Regions from separate parts of the Homo sapiens genome. Here regions 1, 2 and 4 are each reported to be linked to region 3. Evidence: microRNA targets listed by miRTarBase, many of them from high-throughput screens and not tested one by one. Region 3 holds a microRNA gene; each other region holds the end of a gene's coding sequence.

Region 1 (7,111 bases), not on the chromosome of region 3:
ATTAGCCTTAATTTTGCACATCCCGTTATATGTACCTCCAAAGAGTTAATTTTTCAGGTACATAACTACTTGGATTAAATGAGCAGACAAGGGCTACTAATCCAGCACTATTTTTCTTTGTCACACAGGAAAACAGCTCAGGCATGTTTGCTGCAGAAGAGACAGGGGAGGCACTGTCTGAGGAGACTACAGCAGGTGAGGCAGGCAAAAGGGGTTCTAACGAAGCAGCATGGTATAGAATCACTTTTACTTTTTGAAAATCTCTTTATTTTCCTGCAATATAGGTGAACAGTCTACAAGGTCTTTTATCTTGGATAAAATCATTGAAGAGGATGATGCTTATGACTTCAGTACAGATTATGTGTAACAGAACAATGGCTTTTTATGATTTTTTTTTTAACATTTTAAGCAGACTGCTAAACTGTTCTCTGTATAAGTTATGGTATGCATGAGCTGTGTAAATTTTGTGAATATGTATTATATTAAAACCAGGCAACTTGGAATCCCTAAATTCTGTAAAAAGACAATTCATCTCATTGTGAGTGGAAGTAGTTATCTGGAATAAAAAAAGAAGATACCTATTGAAAAATGTAAGTTTTATTTACAGATCAGGCCACAGGTTACAAAATTAAAACCAACAGCAGTTTTGAATTATCTGTACCAGCTAGCTGAACTAGCCATATCAGTTCTTCTTTCCAGTCATTCAGCATTGTAGTAAGAAAACACTTGGTAAGGCAGATGGAGACATATTTATAGTCTATAGTCTGTCTGGGAAGCTGACTGCCAGACAGGGCAGTTTGTCATCTTTACCTAGCTGACACATCTTTTTCCATGGCTTGCTACCGATAGGCATTGAAGCCTAGCAACTGTTACTTCCCACGCATGCTATCTTCCAGGACTTCCTGAGAAATGCTTGCTTACAGTTCAAATTCTGTTTCACTTTATGTTTGAGATCTCGGTATATCTTCGGATTAGGTTGAATTTGCCTGTTGGGTCTGGAATATACCATTTTTCCCAAACATCAGTATATGAAGCAGTCCTTCCCCATGGCTTCAAATGTCCATTCCAATGGAGTAACTTGGCAGCCTTTACAAACTGAGGTGAATATCGTTTTCCAGCACTGGAACCTTACATTTGAGACAAAAATAGCCACATCGTTGCGCCATGTGAAATTGTGCAGAAAACTTACTTAAGGGAAACAAAGAATATACCCCATCCCTGAGGATAGTTCTTTAGATACCAATTCTTTACTAGCTTATGCCACTGGTTAATTCTACTTACCAAGGTGGCGGACATTCCACATAGGATCGATGGTAGAGTGCTGTTGATAAAATACGATAAGCAGAGGAGGTGTTGTGATGCTACCAGCCAGGGTTCTGCTATACAGTCCCTCTCTTGGTGGGACAGAAAACAAATGTTTGTTAGTGAAAAGTACTGACTAACTCCTGTTAGTCAAGACTCTAGGAATTGAAATACAACAGTTTTTCACAGCTAGGCCAGTTACATACTTACTCTACATTGAGTTTCATCCATTTTTCCAGTTGGTTAGTTATATTCTGTCGTTTCCATTCCGTCAGGTTTGCAACAAAAACTCCAGGATTAAATGAGCAAGTGCTGGCTTTCATGGAAAGCTTACGAATTCTTTCCTTTTTATAGTCAAGATAGCCAATGTAATTGTACTAAAAACACAAATAGGATATATGTACTTACTGCTTCAAACAAAATAGATACAATTTTATAGCCAGTAGAGAGAAGAGCTGTTAAACTGACTTCTTCAGATTAGAAAATAAATATTTGAAATTCCAAGTTAGAATAGGAACCTAGATGTTGACATAATAAACCAGATGTTCAAGAACAATTAGGCTGTCAAGTCCATGAAGAAGTCTACAGAAAAGCAGGCTTGAGTTTTGGGATGAAATGATTGGGGAGTGTAAATTGCAGCAAAAGAGTTCCCTGAATTTGCAACCTCTTCCCATTAAACAATATTGTAGGAAGAGGGGTGTTTGGTAAGCAATTTACCTGGTTTCCTGCTCCACGGATGACAACTTTAGTAGAGGCTGAATCACAATCTTCTGAAAATGCAGCTGCATGTCCTGGCTTCAGTGCTGTATTGTAAAGGGCAAGAATATCACCTGAAATAGACAAGATGTTAAGATTTACATTTCCGTTGCCTTGAGAGTTCCCTGTTACTCCCACTTCTCCCTATGGTGACCTTTTATAGAAGACCATAAATAAACCACTACAGCCCACTGTAGCCCATTGTTTTATTTAGCAATTGTACCCAATCTGGGTGGAGAACAGCACTCATGGTGACATTTTTGATACCTTGCACAATTACATCATCATCCATGTATATGGCCTTCTTTGCGCTGGGAACCAGAATTGGCAAGTAGAACCTTGCAAAGGTTAACTGGAAAAGGAAAGAATAATTGGCATAGGATACCGCACTAGCTGTGCTTTTATTTACACAGAAACTCCTAGGATGCTTTCAGTACCCATTCAGGAGAAGAAAGGACTCTTAGAACCACCCAGGCTTGGTCCCCAGGAAACTACTTGCACTATACCCACAGATACCCAGGTATTCCATTATTTCCTAATACTGCCAAGTGCAAAGAAGGATGCATGGAACTCACAGGTTTCATGGATTCCCCCTGGTCAGGATCCTCCTTTACTTTTCCTTCCAAAAGTTTAGGGTCAAAATTGACAATTTTGTATCTGATGCTTTTCAGGGAATCACTGTTGAGCCAGGACCTGATGAAGATAAAACACTACATTTTAGTTTCAAATAATGTCTCCAAACCAATGAGGGAATAATGCAAAAGAAACCCTATGGACCAAATAGGTGTTTTCAAGCTCCTTTTATCTCTGAGCTTTGGTTTCCTCGTCTGAAGTGAGGGTAATTCCCACCAAAGTCCCTCCCTGAATTAAGATTGTATGGTAATTATCTTCTAACACTAAAACTACTCTAGAAAAACTATAGAATTAAGAACATTTCATCACCACCTGGACTATCCAACTCTTAACTGTGGTGACCCTAATTCCACCACTCAAGTCTGAGGCACTACCTGTAAGAAAAAACTGTTTGCTAAAGGAGTACTGCACATTTTTTCTAGGTCAGTTTCAAATCAGTGTTTTGTGGCTACTTAGTGTTATTTCTGTAGTCTATTTTTATACAGCTTCTGTTTCTGTATTTTAAATGCGTTCAGAATTTACAGCTTTAAAAACTAAATATGAACCATGCAGAGGGCCACAAGGACCAAAATGTTTCAGAAATTTGACAACTGGTTAATTTGTTAGACCAACAAATTTGGAGTAAGTTTTATAAGTCTTATTCATTTTCAAAATGGATTAGACTATCCAAGTTTCCCCAGATCACTCTGGGCCAGGATTTGGATCAGGATCTGTGATCAGCATCACAACACTACCTTGCCATTGTTGCTAAGTCCCTTCCCACTCTAGACCAGAACTGCTCCGAGCATGTCCATGAAATAAGGAACTTGTGACTTGTAAATCAACATTTACTGCTCCCTTCACTGAGAAAGTATTATTATCAAAACACCATCAGGTGGGGTTAACAGTTCAGAGTGACAGCTGACTTACTTCCTGGCATGAGCTCCTTGTATCACTTCTCCTATTATGGGGATATGCTCATAATACAGTCCTAAAAAAAATATGTCATTTGTACAGTTTATCACTGGTACAATTTCAATTGTATAAAACAACATACAAACCACAGAAAAACAGATCCTGGATTGGCAGCTGGCCTGCTCTAAATCATCCTCTAGAAGCAGAATCACATAAGCAGAGCTCACCGGAGATGGTCTGCTGTATTGTTGAGAGTAACAATGTAGAAAATCACATTGGAGCGAGTGTTGTGCTGAATGCTGTTTATAGCTGCAATGGCCCCCCCAAGCCTGTCTTCAGATGCAGCGATGACCACAGGAATCTCCTCTTGTCTCCCATCTACTGCATGTCGGAGAGCATTTGGGACAAAGTCTATAGGTTGAGGCCCTACAATTCCTGAATCTGAAAACACAAGGAAGGCACTGTGATTACAATCTCATGGGCTTTTGATATAGAGTCCAAGACATGGAAAAAGGGAAGGTAAGGATTATGGTACTGATCTACCTCATTCTCCCCCATTAAACTGAAGCATATAGCCCTGAAACTTTCCCTGTATGTAAATAAGCTTTTGGAAAAGTGGAGGAAGCATTTTTTAAAATACACTGACAGCACTTTGGTACACTACTGGTAGGAAAATAACAGAACCTGTTAGAATGTATTATGGCAATTTGTATCAAGAGTTTCCTAAGGACAAAATCTGAAATATAATCAAAAGAAAGAATTTTATTTAAATTGTGAAAACTTAGCAGCAAACTAAATCAATGTTTTTCAAGTCACGAATCACAAGTAGGCATGAAACCAATTGAGTGAGTCACAATCAATTTATACAGAAAAAGTTTCTGGATTGCAATAGAAAACTGAAATAGAGGCCGGGCATGGTAGGTCACGCCTGTAATCCCAGCACTTTGGGAGGCTGAGGCGGGTGGATCACTTGAGGTCAGGAATTTGAGACCAGCCTGACCAACATGGTGAAACCTCATCTCTACTAAAAATACAAAATGAGCCAGGTGTAGTGGTGAACACCTGTAATCCCAGCTACTTGGGAGACTGAGGCAGGAGAATCGCTTGAACTCGGGAGGTGGAGGTTGCAGTGAGCCAAGACTGTACCACTGCACTCCAGCCTGGGCAGCAATAGGAAAACTCCATCTCAAAAAAAAAAAAAGAAAACTGAATTAGAATACCAAAGAAAACATAGTGTATCACACAAGGAAACTGCAATTACTGTCCTGTATGCATTCTTGCCTTTCATTTTTTTTTTTTTATTCCTCATTGAACCCTGGTATTTACTATGTGCCAGGCAATATCTAGGCACTGGGGTTACAGCCATGAATAAAACATCCCTAACTTTCTGAGGATAGACAGCCAATAAGCAAATACACATGTATGTACATGTGCTACATGTAATGTATTTCCTATTGTAGGGCTGCCATCAAAAAGTCTGAAAGCTGTTGTAGCAAAAGATGTTATCCTGTGGAAACAAATTAATAGACATTAAGATTATGTATGAAGAGTTTCTACCATCACAGTGACATGATATACAGAAAAACATGTCATGTACAGTTTATATATAGTACAATCTCAACTGTACAGAAAAAAAGATGTGTAGGAAAAAACTGGAAGGTACTAAGCCAAAATTGTAAATGAAATCATTCAACCAACTAATATTTATTGAACAGCTAGTATCAGCCATCATCCATAGGCACAGAAGATAAAACAGTACACAAATTGCCTTCATGGAGCTTAAATACTGTTGTCTCTTTTTTTTTTTCTTGAGACGAAGACTCACTCTGTCACCAGGCTGGAGTGCAGTGGCGTGATCTTGGCTCACTGCAACCTCCGCCTCCTGGGTTCAAGCGATTCTCCTGCCTCAGCCTCCCGAGTAGCTGGGACTACAGGCGCATACCACCACGCCCAGCTAATTTTTGTATTTTTAGTAGAGACGGGGTTTCACCATGTTGGCCAGGCTGGTCTTGTACTCCTGACCTCGTGATCTGCCCACCTCAGCCTCCCAAAGTGCTGAGATGGTCTCGATCTCTGACCTTGTGAGACGCCCACCTTGGCCTACCAAAGTTTTGGGATTACAGGCATGAGCCACTGCTCCCGGCCGCTGTTCTCTTTTTTATAAACTTTCCTACCAGGAACATGCATTACTTTATATGTATCATACATATATACACGTGATAAAACATGCTATCAGAGCACTCCGTGAAAGTCAGGGGAAAGCTATTACAGTCTCTCACTCTGGTCAGCTATGGTGGGTGGCAATCCAAAAATGATTTTTGACAAACACTCAAGCCTCAAACATTTCTCAGTACCAAGGGAGAACAGTATGAACGACTAATTCAATATACTGTGCGATATATTATACAACACAGTGATTTTTAAAAATCACTTGACAAACTTTTATTGCTACAGTCCCACTGATGCAGCTGCACAGCTGAAGGAAAGTAACTAGACTGACACTCTAGTGACTAGAGCAGGCATCAAACACCAAGGACACTGGTATGCCCTCACTTTCTGAAGCCCTGTCCTGCTGACATGTGAACAGATGGCAGCCCTCAGAGGCTCTCCTAAGGCCTCTGATTTGGTGAAAAGGAATATTCTGTCAGATCAAACCCTTAACAAACAACTGCTAGTACTACCGGAAGAAGAACAACTTAGGATGTGTGACACAGAGAATACCAGGTCCGCAACAGATTCTAAGGCATTATTAATAAGTGCTCGCATACCTGTAACCTCATTCCTTAACAAACTGCTCAAGCTGAGGAAGTTATGGTGCAAAACCAGTAAGAAGAGAGCAACAGCCAGGACCAAGATGATGATGTTTACTGAAATAGATAGGGAAAACCTATGTTATACCTCTTTATCTTTGACCAGGTATAAAAACAACTTAACTTGTAGAAAGAGCATACCTTTACGGAATGACATCTTTTTCTTCTGTCATATAAATATTAGTTTTTAACCCTACAAAACAAAAACAAGCCCCCAAAGTCAGTAAGCACATGAGAAGGGACATCAAAATGCCCTAACACTTTTTTTTTTTTTTTAATTCAGGAAGAAACAAGAGGCATATACAGTATTCCGCCAGAAACTCATTTTGAATTCACAGTTCCCAAGAACCCAATTTGGGATCTGAAATTTTTGTGGTACTCATTAATAAAAAACTTAAAAATAAGTTGGAGAAACAGCCTTAGCCTTGTACATTATACATCACAAGATGAAAAGCAAAAGAAACATTTAAGAATTAAGTTTCAGCCAGGCAGGGTCTGGCCTATAATCCCAGCACTTTGGGAGGCCGAGTGGGGTGGATCATGAGGTCAGGAGTTCAAGACCAGCCTGGCCAAGATGGTGAAACCTCGTCTCTACTAAAAACTGCAAAAAAATTAGCCAGGTGCAGTGGCAGGGGCCTGTAATCCCAGCTGCTCAGGAGGCTGAGGCAGGAGAATCGCTTGAACCTGGGCAACAGAGGTTGCAGTGAGCCGAGATC
Region 2 (7,118 bases), not on the chromosome of region 3:
GAGTGTGACCTTGAACACATCACTTCAATTACTGTGCCTGAGTTTTCTTCTCCAGAAATTAGGGGTGACTGTTCTGACCCTGCAGGGGACTTATGATTAGACACCATTTATGAAAACACCTGGCATGTGGCAAGAATGTAACATTTCTTGAATTTAAATTCATCTTTTCTGCTACATCTAAACTGTACTCGGCACCTGCTCCAATCAGCATTCATTATCTAGTCATGTCTGGGTTTAATAATTCAGTTCCACTCCCTGTAGTTAGTGACAACCTCTGGTCACTGCCGCCCAAGGAGAAGTCAGACCTCTCACCTAAACCACTGCCACGGCCTCCTAACCACCTTCCCATCCAGCCATCTGGCCCAGCCTTACAGAATTAATCACTACTCTGCTCAAAACCTTCAACAGCCCTCCACTGAGAGAGCACAAAATTAGCCATGGCATTCGCACGTCCCCTCTTCTCCCACTCCCATCAACCTGTTGAGCATAGTTCTCTGCATGCTCTGAGACCCAACTCCAGGCCATGTGCCCTGCACTTTCTCATCTCCACGCCTCTGCAGACACCACCAGCCTCTCACCTTGATCCTTTCCTGCTATGCCCTGACAAAATTAGTCCCATTCTATTCTGCACTCCAAAGTAATTTTCTTTGTAAGTGTCGCTGCATTTTTCATATCTTACTTTGGCTAAGTACCATCTTTGAGGCATCATTCATCCAGTCGGTATGTCTATCTCCTGTGCCAGGCACTATGCTAGGCTGTGCAAACAGCCCTAACAGAGGGTTCCTACCTTCAAGCCGCTCAGCACCTAGCCGGTACAGACTGTAAACAAGGACAGGTAAGAACTGTAATAACGGTCTGTAACGTTCTCGGGAAAACCAGGAGCTGTCTAGCTTACATGAAAACAAGTTTCTGGAAACCCTGCGTCAAACAGGGCCTTTCTGGTTTCAGTAAGGAGAAGGGGGAGCGCGCATGTGACATCTGGGGCTCAGGGTTAGCTGGCATCCCCACCAACGGACAGAGGTCCACAGGTCTGTAAAGTCAAGTCCCTCTCCTCGCCGCCCTCACCTGGCCCTCGCCCAGGCTCCTGGCAGCGGGCCCCGGCTCTCGGTCACCAGCGTCACCTCCCATTTACCAAATCCGCAGCGGCGCCCAGCGGGCGGACAGCCGTCTCTGCTGACCCAGAGCGCCCACCCACGCCCTCGGCTTTCCCCGCCCCGCAGCCCCGCGGCCCCGCGGCCTGGCCGTTTTCAGCTCGAGCGCGAGCCCAAACAGCGCTCCGTGTCGCGGGGCGGCCCGAGGCCGGCCAGAGGCGCTTCCCCGGCCCCGCGGCCCCCGCCCAGCCCGGCCCCGCGACTTCCCGCCCCAGGCTGCGGCTGGCTGTTGCTCCTGGCCCCCACGCGGCGCTCACCTCCGGGCTGGGGGGCGCCCCCCGCGCGCTAGGCAGCGGCGGGCCCCGAGACGGCTCCGCGGCCCCCTGCGCCTGGGCCCCGGCGGCCTGAAGGTCCATGCCCTGCGGCCCGCGGCTGGTCGCCCTGGACGCCGTGGGCCACGTGACGCGCCGGCCCGGCTGCCCGCCCGAGGATCCGCCGCAGAAGCGCCAATCAGCCTGGGGAGGGGGTGGGTACCGGCCAAGAGGGCGGGGCGCGGGGGTGTCACGAGCAAGCGGGGGCGGGGCGGCGCAGGGGGCGGGGCGCGCGGCCTCGCGGAGCCCGCCCCTCCCTCCCAGCGCGAAATCTGAAACAATCTCGGAGACGGATTTTGGAAACTCCTCTCGGTGCATATCCTAAGGCTGCACGACTAGCTGCGTGTGAAACGCCAAGCGTACCCTACTCGGCCACTCGGGGTGTGCTCCAGCTTCAAAACCCCGCGTGGGTAAGACACATGAGCAACCCAGTGACCTCCACCTTGAGCTAATGATCGTCTTTGAAGTTAATCCATTAGAAACCAAGATAGATGATTAAGACACAAACTGCAATATGCAGTGGACACAGAATACAGGCCACGACGCTTACTCATAATAATCCTGAACATTCGGGATTCCTGTATTTCCATGCTCAACGCCTGATACCGACAACCTAATTATTTCCCATTTTGCCTCGAAAGGTGGCTTCTGGGGATAGGCAGGGCCTGAGCTGGGAACAGCCCAACTGGAAAGACAGCCTTCCCTGCCTTCCCCACAGTGCCTAACCTCTAATAACAAACCAGCTCAAGGTGTGCTAATCACGTCAACATCAGGACATGAGACCCTCTTCCTTCATCCCCCTCAAAGACTGTGTTGTTTGTACAACACAAAAGGCATTTGAAAAAATTTAGCATAAAACTGACACACAATATTCGATATTATTTTTGTTCTATATGTAGATGTTCCTACACAGGAGTCAGTATCCCCAAGGCTAACTGCCTCTAGGTCAGCAATGTCCAATAGAACGTTCTTTAATGGTGGAAGTGGAAATGAAAGTTCTACTATCTGTACTGTCCAATATAGTAACCATATACCTACTGAGCACTTGAAATGTGGCCAATGTGAATAAATTGAATAATTCTAATAAATTTAAATTGCTACATGTGCCTTGGAGCTACTGTTTCTAACAGTGCAACTCTAGGTGTACTAGCTAGATGTGTTTTCATAACCTGCAATATTGAGAATCAGATACAGGGATGTGATGACCCCAGGTGACCACCCTTATAGCCTTGTGTTAAGGAGACTACCACTATCCTCTTTGCTCCCTAATCTACATATCTCTTTCGTAAAATTAAAGTGCCAAATAAGATTAAGAATGTTAAACATCCCAGGACTTAAGGGACAGGAAAAAGAGGAATTTTTTTCTTATTTTAAAACAAATGACAAGAAAACAGGGGCTGGCCGCGGTGGCTCACTCCTGTAATTCCAGCACTTTGGGAGGCCGAGGCAGGCAGATCACTTGAGGTCAGTTCAAGGCTATCCTGGCCAACATGGTGAAACCCCATCTCTACTAAAAATACAAAAATTAGCCAGGCGTGGTGGCACACACCCATAATCCCAGCTACTCGGGAGGCTGAGGCAGGAGAATCACTTGAGCCCGGGAGGTGGAGGGTGCAGTGAGCAGAGATTGCCCCACAGCACTCCAGCCTGGGCGACAGAGTGAGACTTGGTCTAAAAAAAAAAAAAACCAGAAAGAAAAAGAAAACAGTACAAAAGCTTAAAATAAAAATGTTCTAAAGTAGACTCTAATACTCATAGAAATTTAATATATAATAAAGGTAACATCACAAATCAGCAGAGAGAAACATAACTGCCCAAATAGTGTTGGCAAAATTAACTGCTTGGGGAAAAAGAGTTGTTCTCAGCACCAGGAAGAGCTTCCAAAGCATTTTAAAAACAGACATCACACATACACACACAAAATACCTCTGGGCATCAAAAATCGCCACAAAAGGTGCCTATAATCCCAGCTACTTGGGAGGCTTTGGCAGGGAGAACTGTTTGAACCTAGGAGGCAGAGGTTGCAGTAAGACCACACCACTGCACTCCAGCCTGGACCACAGAGCAAGACTCTGTCTCAAAAAAAAAAAATCACCACAAACAAGGCTGGGGGTAAAATTATTTGCAACAAATGAGAAACAAGATATTAATATTCTGAATATGTTTTTAAAAACTCTGGCCAGGCACAATGGCTCATGCCTATAATACCAGCACTTTGGGAGGTTGAGGTAGGAGGATTGTTTGAGCCCAACTGTTTAAGAGACCAGCCCTGGCAACATAGCAAGACCAGTCTCTACAAAAAAAAATTTAAATTAACCAGGCATGGTGGTGTGCACCTGCAGTCCCAGCTACTCAAGAGGCTGAGGTGGGAGGATCTCTTGAGCCCAGAAGTTAAGGCTGTAGTGAGCCATGATCACACCACTGCACTCTAGCCTAGGTGACAAAGCAAGAACTTGTCCAATTTAAAAAAAAAAATTAACTCATAAATTAGTAAGAAAAAAAATTTTTAAATAGTCTAAGGATGTAAAAAGATGAGAAACATAAAATACACTAACTTCACTAATATCAAAGTATGGTAAAACAATGACATATCACATTTCACCTATAAAATGGTAAAAATAAAAGATATAATTACACCAGTACAGGTAAGGGTACTGACACTTTCATGTATTGCTTGAAAGAAGGAGCAAACCAGCAATACATATCAGTATTCTCTAAAAGCAGTATCCTTTGATCCAGTAATTCCACTGTCGGATGTCAATCTCCTAAGGAAATGGCCAGGGATGTGAACAAAGATTGACAAGAATCTTCATCAACAGCATTTATCTAATTTTTAAAAAAATTAGAAATGACAGTCCAGGCCAGGCTTAGTGGTTCACGCCTGTAATCCCAACACTTTGGGAGGCCAAGGCGGGTGGATCATGAGGTCAGGAGTTCGCAACCAGCCTGGCCAATATGATGAAACCCCCGCACTACTAAAAATACAAAAATTGGCTGGGCGCGGTGGCGGGTGCCTGTAATCCCACCCAGCTGCTCGGGAGGCTGAGCCAGAACCACTTGAACCCGGGAGGTGGAGGTTGCAGTGAGCCGAGATGGAGCCACTGCACTCCAGCCTGGATGACAGAGCAAGGCTCCATCTCAAAAAAAAAAAGACAGTCTAACCAGAGGATTAGTAAAATATATTATGGCTCATTTTTACAATGTAATGTTACGAATTCATTAAATGTTTTTAAGGCTATTTAATGACACAGAAAAACAATACTAAGTGAAACGTAACAATAAGCTACACTGAAAGCTTCTCCCAGTGACAGGATGCTTTTTTTTACCACACTATTCTATTTCCTCCATATTTTCCAGAACAAATGCATACCACGTATCTTTTATAATGAGAATAAACCAACAAAACTGTACTTTCTCCTTTTTTTTTTTCCTTGAGAAGGAGTTTCGCTCTTCTTACCCAGGATGGAGTAGCAATGGCATGATCTCGGCTCACTGCAACCTCCGTCTCCCAGGTTCAAGCAATTCTCCTGCCTCAGCCTCCCAAGCAGCTGGGATTACAGGCACCCACCACCACACCTGGCTAATTTTTGTATTTTTAGTAGAGACGGGGTTTCACCATGTTGGCCAGGCTAGTCTCAAACTCCTGACCTCAGGTGATCCGCCTGCCTCAGCCTTCCCAAAGTGCTGGGATTACAGGCGTTGAGTCACCATGCCTGGCCACTTTCTCCTTCATTTTAACTGGCTCTTAGGTCGAGATTAGAGATACTCATGCTTGACCTGGGATAATTTTAAAAAAACCCAGTCGTATGCTATCCATGTATTTTGGGAAACATTTAGGACCTGTGGAAGATCGGGCCTCAACATTAAATCAGCAATTCTCTTTACTGGAATCAGATTAGCACATCAAACTGAGCAGTGTCATGCACCTATAATCCCAGCTACTCAGGAGTCTGAGGTGAGAAGGTCACTTGAGTCCAGGAGTTCAAGACCAGCCAGGGCAACAGAGCAAGACCCAGTCTCAATCATAAAAATTTTTTAATTTTTAAAAAGATTTAACAAGTTAACATAAAATTAAAGTGTGTCTCAAAACCAGACAGCCATCTTGTCTGCCATCACTGAGCAAATTACAGATGGACTCAATACAAATTTGCCCACGGGGCTTGCTTGCAATACTATTTCACAAAGCTGACTGTATTCTTCATCTTCATAAATGGCCAGTCTGATGCATAGCATGTTTAGCTACAAATGCCTCTGCTGACTCTCCCTGCAACATTTTCATCGCTCGCCAGTAGATCTGTCCACAGTTCTCAGGTCTACCAAGGGGGTGGTTCAATTCTTCTTTCATATAATCCATCCAAAGATCTTTTAAAAAAAAAACATACAATTAGATAACTGACAGAGTGTTATTAGGTAACCTTATTAAATATCAATTCAACTCAAGATTTCTAAGAAACTTAACTTCTCATTGTTACTTCCCTAGGACGCTTTGTTTAACAATACCTCTCTTAGCTTCTTTAAAGTATAGTGGCAGGTTTTGGTTTGTTTTTGTGTGTTTTTTTCTTTTTTGAGACAGGGTCTCACTGTGTTGCCCCGGCTAGAGTGTAGTAGCGGGAACATGGCTTACTACAGTCTCAACCTCCTGAGTTCAAGTGACCCTCCTGCCTCAGCCTCCAGGGCAGCTGGGAACACAGGCACACCACCATATTAGGCTAATTTTTTTATTTTTTGTAGAAACAGGGTTTCACTATATTGCCCAGGCTAGTCTTGAACTCCTGGGCTCAAGCAATCCTTCTACCTTGGCCTTCCAAAGTGCTGGGATTACAGGCGTGAGCCACTGTGCCTCATCAGTTTTGTTTTTTTGTTTTTTGTTTTTTTTCCCAGTAGAAAACCTTCACATCAATCATAAAAGTCTATTTTATTCAATGAACTCAAAAATACTAAACTTTTTGGCTAGGCACAGTGGTTCACACCTGTAATCCCGGCACTTTGGGAGGCCAAGGCGGGCGGATCACCTGAGGTCAAGAGTTCAAGACCAGCCTAGCCAGCATGGCGAAACTCCATCTCGACTGAAAATACAAAAATTAGCCGAGCATGGTGGCACGCGTGCCTGTACTCCCAGCTACTTGGGAGGCTGAGGCACGAGAATCGCTTGAATCTGGGAGGCAGAGATTGCAGTGAGGCAAGATTGCGCCACTGCACTCCAGCCTGGGTGACAGAGTGAGACTCTGTCTCAAAACAAAATAAAAATAAACAAATCAATGTTTATGAGTTCACAAAGTCCACAGATTTTACATGACATACCTATACCCAGAAGTATGTTGTACAAGTCCTACAAATGAGGGCAATGTGGAGATAGTCAACAACAGACGCCAATTAGCATCTCACGTTTACCCCTTTCATGTAACTCTAAATACATTTTTTTTAAGAAAACAAAACCATGCAAATCTTTCTCTAATCCAGAGGGGGTGTTTTTGGTTTTTGTTTTTGAGACAGGATCTCATTGTATTGCCCAGGCTGGAGTACAATGGTGGCATCACAGTCATTGCAGCCTCAACATCCTGGGGCCCAAACAATCCTCGCACCTCAGCCTGCTGTGTAGCTGGGACCACAAGCATGCACCACCATACCCAGTTACTTTTTTTTTTTTATTGTTTGT
Region 3 (7,118 bases):
CTGGCCAGGCTGGTCTCGGACTCCTGGCCTCAGGTGATCCGCCCGCCTTGGCCTCCCAAAGTGCTAGGACTATAGGTGTGAGCCACTGCACCTGGCTAAAAGTTTTAAAATCTTAAAATACATCATGAAAATCTGTATGGAAAAATTACAATGATTAAATGATTAGGTATATGAAGGCCTATGTTACAATGAGAATAAAGGCTGGTATAACAGGAGATTCTGAGCTATAGGATACTAATTAAGAAACAATGCCTAAATACTTTCAATTAGAGCATATCAGATGAATTAAATTATTAAGATGTATAAAGAATTTAATCAATAAAGTATGAAATACCTGAAAATAACAATTACCTAAAATTTATCCCCAAATATATTACATATATAGTAAAGCAAAATATATTATAAACACAAGACTCAAAAATTACTTGCGGGGTTCATAGAGGAAAAGTTTATTTAAAAGTTATTGCTTTTTTACAAAGGTTTATTTTTAAAAACAATTGTTTTAGGTTGGGTTTTTCCAAAGAGTGAGGGAAAAAATGTTTATAGGCTAAGAAAAAATGTTTACTAACACCTGTTTATCCAGCATAAAATCTACACACATGCATTTTCCAGATAACCTATTAAAAACTCAAAACATTCAGCCGGGCACGGTGGTTCACGCCTGTAATCCCAGCACTTTGTGAGGCTGATCACCTGAGGTGGGAGGATCACCTGAGGTCAGGAGTTCGAGACCAGCCTGGTCAACATAGTGAAACCTCGTCTCTACTAAAAATATAAAAAATAGCTGGGCGTGGTTCATGCCTGTAATCCCAGCTACTCAGGAGACTAAGGCAGGAGAATCGCTTGAGCCCGAGGCAGAGGTTGCAGTGAGCTGAGATCGCGCCATTGCACTCTAGCCTGGCCAAGAAGAGTGAAACTCCGTCTCAAAATGGCAACAACAACAACGAAACCTCAAAACATTCAAAATGTTGAATAGTTTCAAGAGATGCTCATATAAAATGTTGAATAGCTTCAAGAGATGCTCATACAAATCATAGTCTCCAGAGAATGTCATATTTTCTGATAACTGAGTTTGATCACCATGAGTATTGTTTCTTACATTATGATATAATTCAGGAAAGGGCTGATGAGAGAGGGCTCCATCTGCTGGTCAGCTGCAGCTAATGCACAGAGCTGAGATGAGATCCCAGTGCTCATTAAACCTATGTAAAAGCAGGGGTCAGCGGACTATAGCTCGCGGATCAAGAATGGCTTTTCACTTTCAAAAGCTTGAAAAAAAATCAAAAGAAAAATAATGTCTCAAAGCATGTGAAAATGATATGAGTCTAAATCTCAGTGTCTATAAATAAAGTCGTATTGGAACACAAACCCACTAATTCATTTATGCCTAGCCTATGGCTGCTAGCATACTACAATGGCAGGGGTGAGTAACTGCAATAGCGGTTGTGTGGCCCATAAGCCTAAAATATTTACAATCTACTTCTTTATAGAAAAAGCTTGTCAATCTCTGGTATAAAACAAAAAGAAACAGGCTCTAGGTAAGCCTGTGGGGGTTCTGCTCTAACTAAGTGATAATCATGGTCTTTGAGATGAAAAGGCACAGGTTTTGGAGTGGCACAGAGCCACAGTTGAGTTCCTAAGCAGGAATTTAACAGGAGGGTGAAAGTGGAGCTCACTTCTCATCAGAAAAATGCATGTAACCACTATTAAAGAGGCTGTTAGAGAAACTAAATGAACAGTGTGTGTGAGGTGCCCGGCCCAGAGTCTGGCACATTGTGGGTATTCACATATCTTGTTCCCATCCATATGGAATTTATTAATCTAAAGGCCTCCTGGTTAACAGCAAGAAATTCAGTGATACAACCATAAAAAGTGCCATATTTAGAAGTAGCCTATGGCCAGCCTATGGTGGCTAGCACACTACAATGGCAGGGGTGAGAAACTACAACAGAGGCTGTGTGGACCACAGCCTAAAATATTTACTATCGACTTCTTTATAGAAAAATCTTGCCAATAAGACAAAAAGAAAGGCTCTAGGTAAGATACAGGCAAGGCAGAATATTAAATTGTAAACCAAATTTGTCTTTAAATCTTTTTGCAGCATATGTATTTTATACCACATTTCCCATTAATTTACAATAAAAATGACGTACGATAGTGGCACACTTTCATGGGTGCTTTAAAAAGTTTCTATTGCTTTTAGGTCGGGTGCGGTGGCTCACGCCTGTAACCTCAGCACTTTGGGAGGCTGAGGTGGGCGGATCACCTGAGTTCAGGAGTTTGATACCAGCCTGACCAACATGGTGAAACCCTGTCTCTACTAAAAATACAAAATTAGCCAGGCATGGTGGCACATGCCTGTAATCCCAACTACTAGGAAGGCTAAGGCAGGAGAATCACTTGAACCCAGGAGGCAGAGGTTGCAGTGAGCCGAGATCACACCATTGCACTCCAGCCTGGGCAACAAGAGCAAAACTCCATCTCAAATAAATAAATAGATAAGTAAATAAAAAGTTTATACTGCCTTTGTAAATGACTAGCGTAGTCTCCTGAGTGAGAAGAGAGAAAAAAACCTGGTGAGACATCCTGGAGATGGCATTTCTTTTCCCTCCTCCACGTTTGCCTCACCCTAGCCAGTCCTGAGTCAATCTTTTTATTTACTTCTCTCATGGAATCCAGCCCCAAACCCAGCTCATACCAAGTCCTCAATAAATGCTTGGTAAGTAGATGAGTAAATGAATAAAATTTCTATAGATTCAACTGTAGGATGATGAACTTCATTTATTTATTTATTTGTTTATTTATTATTTAACCATGAGAATGAAAACCAGGAAGGATGCTGAATTTCTGTCATCTAAGTATAAATATGTGATATATATTACCAAAACTCAACTTGTCTACCTCCATAGTCAGCATGCATTGTTGGTAAAGTGCCAAGTATACATATTTTAATAGGGCATTACAGGCCAGACTGTCTCTGTTGTGACTACTTAACTCCATCATTATAGTGTGAAAAAAGCCACTGACAATACAGAAACAAATGAGTGTCTATAAACCTGTATTTGTGGACACTGAAATATGAATTTCATAGAATATTTTAATAAAATTTTCTTAGGTGTTTTTTCAACCTTTAAAAAGTGAACACCTTTTTTAGCTTGTAGACCATACACAACTAGCTGGTAGGCCAGATTTGACCCATGCGCCATAGTTTTCTGACCACATGCATCAAATGTTTTAGTACATCTACAATGCTTTAAAATAGTACCTGCTTGATGAACTTTATGAAGTTAATATTTATGAAAAAATATATAAAAGGCAAATACCACAAAGATTTCAGAACTGCTAAATTAATGCAGGGTTATGCTTTGCCATTGGTGAGTACTGTCTTTTAAAGAGTTTTATTTTTTACTGATGTATACTGCACAAAAGCAAAGTAGGGCTGGGCACAGTGGCTCACGTCTGTAATCCCAGCACTTTTGGAGGCCGAGGCAGGCAGATCACTTGAGGTCAAGAGTTTGAGACCAGCCTGGCCAACATGGTGAAACCCCATCTCTACTAAAAATGTAAAAATTAGCCGGGCATGGTGGTGAGCACCTGTAATCCCAGCTACTCAGGAGGCCGAGGCAGGAGAATCACTTGAACCCAGGAGGCAGAGGTTGCAGTGAGCTGAGATCAGCCCCCTGCCCTCCAGCCTGGGTGACAGAATGAGACTCTGTCTCAAAAAAAAAGAAAAAAAAGCAAGTAGAAATACCTATTATTCTTTATAAAGTTCTATTTTCAACCCCCAGTCAGCATAATTCAAGCCAGGAATTTAAAGACAGAATGTGCATGCCAATTTCTTTAAGCATTGAAAATCAACATTCTTCAAACAGCTTAAAGCAACATTTGCAGGGCTAAAAATTGGGTTTGATAGGATTTTTAAAGAGATATTACTCAAGACCTAAATATAATCTTTTGTAGAGATTAGAGAAGAATAATACAGAAGCCTCAGATTCAAATAACATTTACTGAGGTCCTTTTCTTTTCCTTTTTTTTTTTTTTGAGACAGAGTCTCACTCTGTCACCCAGGCTGGAGTGCAGTGGTGCAATCTCAGCTTACTGCAACTTCTGCCTCCTGGGTTCAGGCGATTCTCCTGCCTCAGCCTCCCGAGTAGCTGGGATTACAGGCATGCGCCACCATGCCTGGCTAATTTTTCGTATTTTTAGTAGAGACAGGGTTTCACCATGTTGGCCAGGCTGGTCTTGAACTCCTGACCTACTGAGGTCCTGTTCTGTTCTAGTGCTCTTATATTCAAAAAGCAACAGGCAATGGCGATGGCAGAGAGGAGGAAAAATGATGTAGGAAATGAAGTGACCTATCCAAGCCCCAAAGCTAAGGAAGCGGAGGAAGTATCCAGAGTCAGACTTCTGCCTCCTGGTCCAGTTCTCGTTTTAGGACATTATGATCCCTTGCCTTCTCTAAGGCTTAATGAGCCAGATCTGCTGAGAGAAAGAATCATACCATAGCCTGTGAAGTCTGCATCTGTTGAATGGTATGATGAAGCTGGTGCTAATGGTATCTCTTGTGAACTGAAGGAGACTTTTGTTGGATATTTTTGCTGTTTCATCTGGCTGACAGCCTACAAAAGAAAGGAAAATTAGATGAATATCAAAAAGGAGAAAGGTAACAAGAAAATACTTTAAAACTGGTGTATTGTTACCAAAACAATGGTGCAGTCCAATGATGTCTTTTGAGAATATAAGGTTGGAGGGTGGCAAGAAGTTAGGATGATTTATGCCTCGTTCCTCATTCTTCCCTATTTAACTTTACAACTAAAATGCTTTGATGAAGGGCAGATCAAGGAAGGGAGGAAAGATAAAAGCTGAAGATACTCTGTCAGTGTGATCTGTACATGAAGCTGGGGGTGGGAGGCAAAACAAAAATTATCTTGCAATTTCTACTCATTCTGATGAAATCAGCAAGAAGCCCCTTTATCTATGGACTTTGAAGTGACTTATCTGTGTTGTGCACATTGAAAAACAATCTACGCTGGGGATGTTTAGAGCATCAACACTGTCCATTTCTTCTGGACACACTAGAGTCAAAGATGCATTTGGTAGGTTAATTAAGCAAAATGAGGGGCAGACAAAGAAAACCAACACCTACTGAAAGCCTACTAAATGCCAGCTACATCAGTGACATTTAATTCACATAAAGGAAGCATAGCTCCTTTATTGAGTCCCTACTATGTTCCAGGCACCTACGATACCCAGTGCCTGGAACATAGTAGGGACTCAATAAAGTGCTTGATGAATGAATGAACAAGAAAGAAAGAACAAAGAAAAGCAAAACTGAAGACATGAGTAACTCAGGGTAGAAAGTGAACTTGCAATTCAGTGAAGGTACAGGGACCTCTACTGTGTGAGTTTGGGAAAAATTAACTTGTAATTCTGGATTTTTGCTGACAGTACCTCCAATGAATATTAATATTAAAAAACTAAGGGGCCAGGCATGGTGGCTCACGCCTGTAAACCCAGCACTTTGGGAGGCTGAGATGGGCAGATCACCTGACATCAGGAGTTCGAGACCAGCCTGGCTAACATGGTGAAACCCCATCTCTACTGAAAAAAATACAAAAATTAGCCAGGCGTGGTGATGCATGCCTGTAATCCCAGCTACTTGGGAGGCTGAGGCAGGAGAATTGCTTGAACCCAGGAGGCAGAGGTTGCAGTGAGCTGAGACCGTGCCATTGCACTCCAGCCTGGGCAACAAGAATGAAACTCCGTCTCCAAAAATAAATACATACATACATACATACACTAAGAAAAACCAAAAGGACTCCTTGCTTATTTAACAGGCAGTTAAGAAATATAGGTAGTAACCTGACCTGCCTTCTGGATCTGCAGTTGGCCAGGGAACCCATCCCCAGCTGGAAGAGTCTGGTAGTGAAGCACCAGGTTGCCCCTGGAGTCTAGAAATAGGACCAAGGTAACTGCTCCAGAACTGTAACACCTCAAGATTCTGTCAGTGGAAAGCTGTGCCTCAATACAGGGCATTGTGCAGTGTGCAGTAACAACAAAACAATACCATCCATTGTGCATATGCACTGTGCTTTCTAGTTTTCAAAACACTTTTACATCCATAAATTCATTCAATCACATGAACAACCCCGACAGTTAAATATTACTTTTTTTCTTTTTGCAGAAAACCAAGCATAAATGTCAAGTGACATATTTGAAATCACACTGCTAATTAGAGAAAGAGGTAGAACCGGAAGTCAATAGTTGAAGAATGCTACAAGCTTAAAGTGTTTATCAAACAGCTGATAGGCAATGATTCTATGGAGTTTTTTTGTTTTTTCCTGCAGTTTTTCTATCACCATCTTCTTTTTTTTTTTTTTTTGGACAGGGTCTCACTCTGTCACCTAGGCTGTAATAGTTGTGTGATCTCGGCTCACTGAAGCCTTGATGTCCTGGGCTCAGGTGATTCTCCCACCTCAGCCTCCTGAATACCTGGGATTACAGGCGCACACCACCACGCCTGGCTAATTTTTTGTATTTTTAGTAAAGATGGAGTTTTGCTATGTTGCCCAGGCTGGTCTCGAACTCCTGGACTCAAGCAATCCACCCACCTCAGCATCTCAGAGTGCTGGGATTACAGGCATGAGCCACTGTGCCCCGCCACTATCAGCATCATTTAATATTGACTAAAAAGAGACTTTTTCAATTACATATTTATCAGTGATTTTTAAAGGAAGAAAGTAGAAAAGGACAAATAAGGGGTTACTATAAGAAAACAACATTGAGAGGACTTAGATATCCAATTATTCTAAGGACCACATTTACTAGCCTCATTGAAGGTAGGTGTGCCAACAGGCTAAGTCCTGGTCAATGGGATGTAAACAGAAGTGAATGTACAATTTTTAGGTCATTCTCCTAAGGAGAAAGATCCTGTCTTTCCCTTCTCACTGCTTGGAATACAGATGTGTTGGTAATAACTGAAGCAGCCCTCTTAAACTAAAGAATGGATGCCACCATTTGAGGGTGGTAGAGTAATCAAATAAGAATGGTATAGTAATCAGATAAGAGGTGCTTGGGTCTCTGACACTTTGGAGACACCATATCATTCCCCAACTGAC
Region 4 (7,118 bases), not on the chromosome of region 3:
CACAGAGCAGGTGGCCTCAGGGGGGTACAAAGGCAATGGTAGGGTGTTGGGGCCAGGAAGGGGCCCATCCTTCTCCCAGGGAGCACAGGGACAACCAGAGACTGGCATGTAACCAACAAGCCGTGGGGCAGGGTGTGCCTGTGGAGATGTGTGTGTGGTCCTAAGGCAGTCCCAAGCCAGGGCATTCGTGGAAGCCCCTTGGGGCCCCCTTCAGGGGTTCACATGGCCGAGGAGAGGCCTGGGTGTGGTGAGGATGCACCGGTGGTGTCAGAGCTGCTGCCACTGGGGACGGCAGCAGGAGCATGTGTTTGAGCTGCCCTCACCTCCCCGCCCCCTGATGGCAGAGCTGCCCTCACCTCTCCCCCTCCGCGCCCTGGCCCCATGGCAGGCCGTGGAACACCGGATCCGTGAGGAGCAGCGGGCGATGGACCAGAAGATCATCCTGGAGCTGGACCGGAAGGTGGCTGACCAGCAGAGCACACTGGAGAAGGCGGGGGTGGCTGGCTTCTACGTGACCACCAACCCACAGGTCAGTGCCTGGGCCTGCTCTGCCCTAGCCCGAGTGCCCCGGGGCCCCATTCCATCTGGGGTTTTACTGCTGGTCCCTGGGGAGCCAGGCTCAGGGTATGGGGGTGAAGTGGAAGGATTGAGGCTCTGGAAAGGATTTCTGTGCCATTCCCAGCACGGAGGCCAGGCCCATTCCCTACAGGAGGGTGAGCCAGCCAGCCATGGGCACTGCCCACCCTCTCCAGGCCTGCTGTGCCACACAGGGCCCTCTTCTGCTCCCCTCCCGCATGCCATTCCGAGTGGCCCTGCTGGGGGCAGAGGCTCAGATTCCGAGTGGCCCTGCTGGGGGCAGAGGCTCAGATTCCGAGTGGCCCTGTTGGGGGCAGAAGCTCAGATTCCACCCTGTCCTGGCAGGCCATGACCAGGCTTCACAGGATGGTCGCCCCCGTGGGCTCACTGCCTGGCACCCTTGGGCCGGGATGAAAGGGGCCTGGGGGTCACTCTGGCCTTCATGGGGCCCCTCTGTATCCCAGGAGCTGATGCTGCAGATGAACCTGCTGGAACTCATCCGAAAGCTGCAGCAGAGGGGCTGCCGGGCAGGGAATGCAGCCCTGGGACTGGGAGGTCCCTGGCAGTCGCCTGCTGCCCAGTGTGACCAGAAAGGCAGCCCTGTCCCACCATAGCCACAGGCAGCAGAAGTCTGGGCAGAGTTCATCTTCTTGACCTTTGGCCACTGCCTTCCCAGCTGCCCGCAGGGGGTTCCCCCTGCTGAGGAGAGACCAGGTGGACCCCAGCTGCCTGTCACCCTTCATCTGGGACTTGCTGTCAAACCCTAGGATAGTCTCATAAAGGGGAGGCTGGGCCAGCCTGCTGCTGTCTGCTTCAGGACCAGGCAGAGAGTGAGGCTGGGGGTTCTCACACCTTACTCCACCGGGCACATCCCAACCTGCACTGGGGCCCACCCGAGCGCTTGTTCTGGTCTCAGCCGCTCCCTTGGCAGCTGCAGCCCCCATGCAGAAGAGGCTCCCAGGCCCAAGCTCTGTGTGACCCAGAGAAATAAAGATGCCTCAGTGTGGCCCAAATGTGGCTTGTGTGATAGCTGCAGGTTCTGCCATAACCGGGGCCCTGGTAGGGCCCCCACCTCTGTTGCAGCAGAGGCCTCTACCTGGGGGCCCCTTCCTGGGCTGTGTGCCCAGCCCACCACCCCTCCCCCTGCCTGGAGACTGGGACCCTCCAGCCTTTCCTGCCCCAGCCCTGGTCCCAGGATGCTGTCACTGCCATCTGTACAGGGGCCCCCATCCAAGCCCCAGGGCATGAGGACCACATCCAGCCTGCTTTGTGGGGCTGGGGGCTGGAGAGCATGGGAGAAGGCCCGGAGTGCAAGTATGCGCCTGCCGCAGCCTGGTCAGTGTCCTGTGGGAACCACTAGGAGGAGCCTGATGCAGGTCACTGGGATAGAGGACTCAGGGTGGCAGGAATGGCCTGAGGAGGAGCCCTGCGGGGAGGCATGCCAGGGCCACCTGGGGAGCTTGGCTTCTGCATCTGCATGAGTCCCCTCCGTGCTGGCCTGGGCCCATGGGCCCTGCTGGGTCCTTGTGGAGTCAGGGTTGGGGGTGTCCAGCACCCTGGGTGGCCAGGTCTGCGCAGGGCCTGGCCTCCAGGAACAGATGATGCTGGAAGCCAGAGTTTGGGATGAGACTTCTCTGACCCTGTCTGAGCCACTCCCTCTTTGTTGCCCAGAGCTGACCCTGTGTGAGGGCAAAGGGCTCTCAGCTGCAGGAACAGTGGTTTATTGACCAGGCAGGCCTCCCCAGCCCGGCCACTGCTCCCCGAGGGGCTCGGGCTATGTGGGCTGGCCTTGGGAGAAGGTGGACAATCCTCTAGGTCCAAGGACATGGGGGTCACAGAGGTGGGGGCCTTGGGCCCACACATCCGAGGAAAGTTCCTAACAGTTACCAGCGGCTATCCCAGGCAGGTATCAGGGTCAGCCCACACCTGAGTGCCCCCACCATTGGCAGGGCTGGGAGGCACCTGACTCCACCTCCAGCAGCTCTGCAAGTGTGGGGTGAAAAAAGGTGAATCTGTGTGAGGATGGGGTTGGCTGCAGCTGTGGTGATGGCCTGGGCGGGGGCGGGGGGGTGCTAGGTGGGGCAATGGAAGAGGTTGCCAGTTCGGAGCCACCTCAAGAGCTCCAGCCACAGCAGCTGCCGCTCCCGACGGGCACCCTTCACGAGGCTGCTGTTCTCCAGGGCGTGGCAGGACACGTATGACAGCACCTACAGCCCTATACTTGTACACAGGGTAGCCAGCCTGGCCTGCATGGGGGCAGATAATGCCATGAGGCCCAGGCCCAGCACCACACTCCATCGCACCAGGGAGGGCCCCATTCACCCAGCGGGAAGCTGATCTGGTCACACATGCCTAGCAGCTGTCCAAAGTACAGTAGGATGCAAGCGCAGCTCCTCCATCCTGTGCAGGTAAAGCCAGGAGCTGAGGGCTAATTCCAGGACACTGTCCCCGGTGCAGGGGTACAGGGCCCCTGTCCCAGCTCTGACCCTGTCCTGCCACCCCAGGTCCCCCATCTACACTCTCCAGACTTTATCCCCTTTGAAGTGGGGTTGGGATATAGGCTCTGTCCGGCCCTCTCCCAGTGAGGCCTCTTCCCAGCAGGACTCTGCTGGGCTGCCCTACTCTTCTCCCTGGGGAGGCCTCAGCCCTTAGCCAACAAGGCCCCCCTCCTGCCTTCCCTACCCTCCTCTCTCCCACCTCTCCTCTACCTCCCTTCTTGGAGGTGCAGCCCTTCTGGGGCTTTGACCCACCCAGCAGCCTGCCCCACAGGGCAGAGAAGCTCCTCAGCTCTCCTGCCATCCCTTCCTCAAGCCCCTCCAGGGTTCTGTGGTATGACTGGTCTCCGGCCCCTGCCCTCGCCCTCTGTGGGCTGCTGCTCTGCCCCATCCCCACAGCTGCTGTGTCCCACACAGCTGCCACCAGCCCCCGAGTCCTCGGAAGGCGGCTGCTCTGAATCGAGATGTGTTGCAAATGTCAAATACACACGGGATTTAGGAGACTTTCTAGAAAAATGCACGATGCCGCATTGCTTTTCTAAAATCAACTTGAATACAATTTGAAGTAATATTTTGTATATTTTGGGTTAATTAAAATGTATTCTTGAAATTCATTTTATCTTTTAACGTAGCTACCAAAAAACTTTAAATTACAGATGTGGCTTGCATTATACATCTATTAGCACTGCTCAGATACTGGGGTGGGGCCTCCACTCTGTCCTGTCTTCACACCACCCCGTATAGGGTCTTACAAAGATTCTCAGGGTTTGAAATATCCACGCAGTGACAGTTCTCAAGTTTCATCTCCAGCTTACTATATCCAGGTATCCCGACTTCGCTGGTCTGCACAGCACTGGGTCCCCCAGCCTGGGGCGAGTTCCGCCTGCTGCTCACGCATCACCCGGGTGACTGGCAGTGCCTGTGCTGTGCTTCCCACTCCCTCCCCGAGGGCCTCACCTCCCCTGTTCTCCATCTGCCCCAGCCCTGGCTCCCAGAGTACCCATCGGCCAGAGGCCCTTTCCCTCCATCCCTGGGCTGGGCTCCAGTGTCGGGACCACCCAGTCTAAAGCAGGCACCCATCTCTGCCACATCGCCCTGGCTTCCATCTTGTGTCTTCCTCAACCCCAGGACATGAACCCGAGAGCCGGGTGCCACTGCTGGCTGCCCCCTCCCCTGCTGGTGTGCACAGCCTCTGCCATGTGACTGCGGCTCCTCCCAGCACAGGACAGTGGCTCACTCCACCTGGCATCTGGGCTTGGCCTCGTGAGGCACTTTGGCCAACAGGGAGGTACCAAAGGTGACACAAGCAGAGGCTTGCCCTCTCCAGGCCTTCTGGAAGCCTGAGCCCACCACGTGCCCAAGCCTGGGCTGGCCTGTGGGACGCTGGACCCAGGATGTAGTCTCCTTTACTACACCAGCCATGAATGAGCTCATTAGGCCCCACCGGCCCCAGATCACAGACGCAGGAGGGACACAGGCACAGCCAGCAGCAGAAGCATCAGCTGAGCCAGCCCACCCCTGGCCTACAGAACATGCCACTGTTCCAGCCTCTAAGTTTGGGGCTGGTTTGTTCCTTGGCCAAAGCCAACTCGGGTTGTTTGAGGGTGGGTGGTGTGGCAGTCTGGGCCCAGCACAGGACAGAGCAGCTGCCATAGTCTAGAACCACTTACCCATGGGAGGGGACCCCAGCTCCCCAGAGCTCCCCAGCCACCCACAGCAGGGGCAGAGCTGAAGCCTGCAGGGGTCCAGCCTCTCAGGCAGGGATGTGAGCATGGTACTGGGGGAGCCCGGCACAGGGCCCTTGGGGCCAAGAGGAGAGAGCCCGGCTGCCACTCGGGAGGGGGAAGCTGTGTCCACTGGGGAAGCCACTGCCACAGCAAGATAGTAGGGACAGACAGGTGCCGGGGCTAAGCTGGAGAGAGGAAGCCCTGCTGAGGGCGGGCTGTCCTTTCGGAGTTGGATGGTGATGTGTCTAGTCAGGCTGTGAGTCCACCAGCATTGAGAGTCCACCCAGAGGCTGGGAGTCCTGATTACAAGCTGAGAGGAACCCCCACCAGCTCCCGAGTGCTGGGCAGTGCTGGCCACCAGGCCTGTGCGTGTGGAGAAAGTGAGTCTGTCCCATCACCGACACATCTATGACAATTAGCAGAGGATCAGGGCACAAAAATGGGTGTGCTGCAATTTCAGGCCATGAAAAAGTAGCAGCATCGTAAACAAAGGCTGAATGTGGACATCACTGAATGATTTCAGAGCCGTGAGTCAGCTCCCGAGCAGCACCAGGATGTGTCCTGTTGGCTGCAGCCCTGGCCCCAAGCCTGGCCCTGTGGCTTCACAGCTTCTTGGGGAGCCCCTTCGTGCCACAAGTCATGGATCTGGGGCACCCTGCCCTGCTGAGAGTGGAGCTCCTGCTCAGCTCCTAGGAAGGCGAGAGCCAGCGAGGCCACTGCCCAGGCCTCCGAGGGTTCTAGGGGGTCCCATCCCTGGGAAGGCGGAATCTGGGAGGGGAGGGGGACCTAGGACCCCATTGTGTGCATAGCTTGGGCTAAGGCATGAGATAAGACCAGGGTGACAGTACAGGAGTATCCAAGAACTGACTTCACCTAACTTCTGCATTTGACTTGTTAGAATTCTACCGAAGTTGTGCTCCATGGGACAAATGTTTAAAGAGAAAACAAACCGTTACATTCCAGATGTAGTTAAAATGTTAAGGGAACTGCTTATAAATGAGGCAGCGCTGTGGAGGCCTCCTGAGGGACTGGGCTCCAACACTACATTTGTACCTTTCAGGAGCCATCCGAATACCCTGATGAAATTTAGTTTTTTAATTGTGAAGTTTAATAAGTCAAATGTTAATTTTTAAAAGGCTGGGTACAGTGGCTGATGCTTGTAATCCCAGCACTTTGGGAGGCCAAGAAGGGAGGATCACTTGAGGCCAGGAGTTTGAGACCAGCCTGGCCAACATGGTGAAACCCTGTCTCTGCTAAAAATACAAAACATTAGCCAGGCGTGGTGGCACATGCCTGTAATCCCAGCTACTTGGGAGGCTGAGGCATGAAGAATTGCTTGAACTTGGGAAGCGGAGGTTGCAGTGAGCTGAGACCACGCCACTGCACTCCAGCATAGGTGACAGCGAGATTCTATCTAAAAAAAAAAGTTAATTTTAAAAACCAACGTAACTGCAAAGAGCCATTGTGCTCTCACAGTCCGATGTCCAGAATGCCAGCGGGCCTGGGCCTGCCCACTGAAGCCACCCTCCAGCTCATTTCACCAGCCTTTCCCCACAAATGCCCGACCACCCAGCAGGTCACTCTGCCCACCCTGAGCTCTGCACTGCTGCCACCTCTCCCCAGCTGGAGGAGACAACGGCTCAGGTTGGGGTTTCGGTGCAGGGTGGGGCACACCTACCTGCGCAGTGCGAAGCGCACTGTGTCCTCATTGTGGGAGGCCACCATCACCTTGGCCTTGGCGTTGTGCTTCAGCTCCTCCAGCACGTAGTCCAGGCACCTGTGAAGAGTGCCATGTGAGCCCAGTTCCAGGCCTGTGGTCGCCTGCACCTCTCATTACCAGCTGCACAGAGAGGAGGCCGAAGGCAGACCCAGATCCATCCAGTGAGCTGGCTCTTTCCAAGGGTATCCACAGGATCAGGAGGAACAGGAGCAGCATCTGCCCCTCCCAGCACCTCATGAAAAAGAAAGACCAGCAACCAAGCAAAAGCGATGTCTGGGACCAGACAATTCACACAGAACCAGCTGGGGCACAGCGTCCCTGCATCAAACATGCCGTGACTCTGGGGACCAGCCCAAACATGCCCATAAGCCTCATGACAGACACAGCTTTGCGTCTGGGGAGGGATCGTACAGTGCACCCCTGGCCCTGAAAGGAAATAAAAGGGAAGCAGGTCCCTGTAGGGCACAGTGGGGGTGGGCATCCCGGTGCACCAGGAAGCCCGAGCAGTACGGCCCTCCTGCAGCGAGGACACTCAGCAGGCTTGACCACGCGCACGTTCTCTCTGACCCAGCAATTCCATTTCCAGCAACCTAGGACAGC

What was found. Region 3 holds the annotated microRNA hsa-miR-3116 (UGCCUGGAACAUAGUAGGGACU, at 5,254-5,275, shown strand). A microRNA usually pairs through its seed, bases 2 to 8, with sites in the 3' UTR of a target mRNA and lowers its output. Matches are read on the target gene's strand: a 7mer-m8 pairs with bases 2 to 8, a 7mer-A1 pairs with bases 2 to 7 and ends in A, and an 8mer does both.
Region 1: the mRNA of GNL3 is a reported target of hsa-miR-3116. Seed matches in the 3' UTR shown: 7mer-A1 at 489-495.
Region 2: the mRNA of UTP6 is a reported target of hsa-miR-3116. Seed matches in the 3' UTR shown: 7mer-A1 at 5,173-5,179, 7mer-m8 at 4,574-4,580 and 7mer-m8 at 3,513-3,519.
Region 4: the mRNA of DGCR6L is a reported target of hsa-miR-3116. Seed matches in the 3' UTR shown: 7mer-A1 at 1,396-1,402.

The regions. Positions count from the first base shown.
Region 1 is chr3:52,693,909-52,701,019 of GRCh38, forward strand. It overlaps GNL3 (G protein nucleolar 3), which reads left to right. Exons shown (of 15, transcript NM_014366.5): 14 at 129-195; 15 at 285-589. The coding sequence ends at 367. GLT8D1 (glycosyltransferase 8 domain containing 1) reads right to left here. Exons shown (of 10, transcript NM_018446.4): 2 at 6,537-6,588; 3 at 6,354-6,452; 4 at 3,813-4,026; 5 at 2,634-2,751; 6 at 2,326-2,410; 7 at 2,020-2,132; 8 at 1,513-1,679; 9 at 1,282-1,394; 10 at 578-1,127. The coding sequence starts at 6,552. The coding sequence ends at 937. Among named protein-coding and RNA genes, the nearest start is that of SNORD69, 4.7 kb to the left of the region's middle.
Region 2 is chr17:31,857,693-31,864,810 of GRCh38, forward strand. It overlaps UTP6 (UTP6 small subunit processome component), which reads right to left. Exons shown (of 19, transcript NM_018428.3): 19 at 3,212-5,824. The coding sequence ends at 5,667. COPRS (coordinator of PRMT5 and differentiation stimulator) reads right to left here and starts at 1,552. Exons shown (of 4, transcript NM_018405.4): 1 at 1,409-1,552. The coding sequence starts at 1,507. RefSeq lists an enhancer at 539-1,213 and a silencer at 1,273-1,702.
Region 3 is chr1:62,076,951-62,084,068 of GRCh38, reverse strand. It overlaps MIR3116-2 (microRNA 3116-2), which reads left to right and starts at 5,213; the gene lies at 5,213-5,280. PATJ (PATJ crumbs cell polarity complex component) reads right to left here. Exons shown (of 44, transcript NM_001350145.3): 32 at 4,502-4,619. MIR3116-1 (microRNA 3116-1) reads right to left here and starts at 5,283; the gene lies at 5,210-5,283.
Region 4 is chr22:20,308,747-20,315,864 of GRCh38, reverse strand. DGCR6L (DiGeorge syndrome critical region gene 6 like) reads left to right here. Exons shown (of 5, transcript NM_033257.4): 4 at 389-529; 5 at 1,041-1,627. The coding sequence ends at 1,190. It also overlaps the pseudogene PRODHLP. Among named protein-coding and RNA genes, the nearest start is that of DGCR6L, 7.8 kb to the left of the region's middle. RefSeq lists enhancers at 1,338-1,891, 1,892-2,447.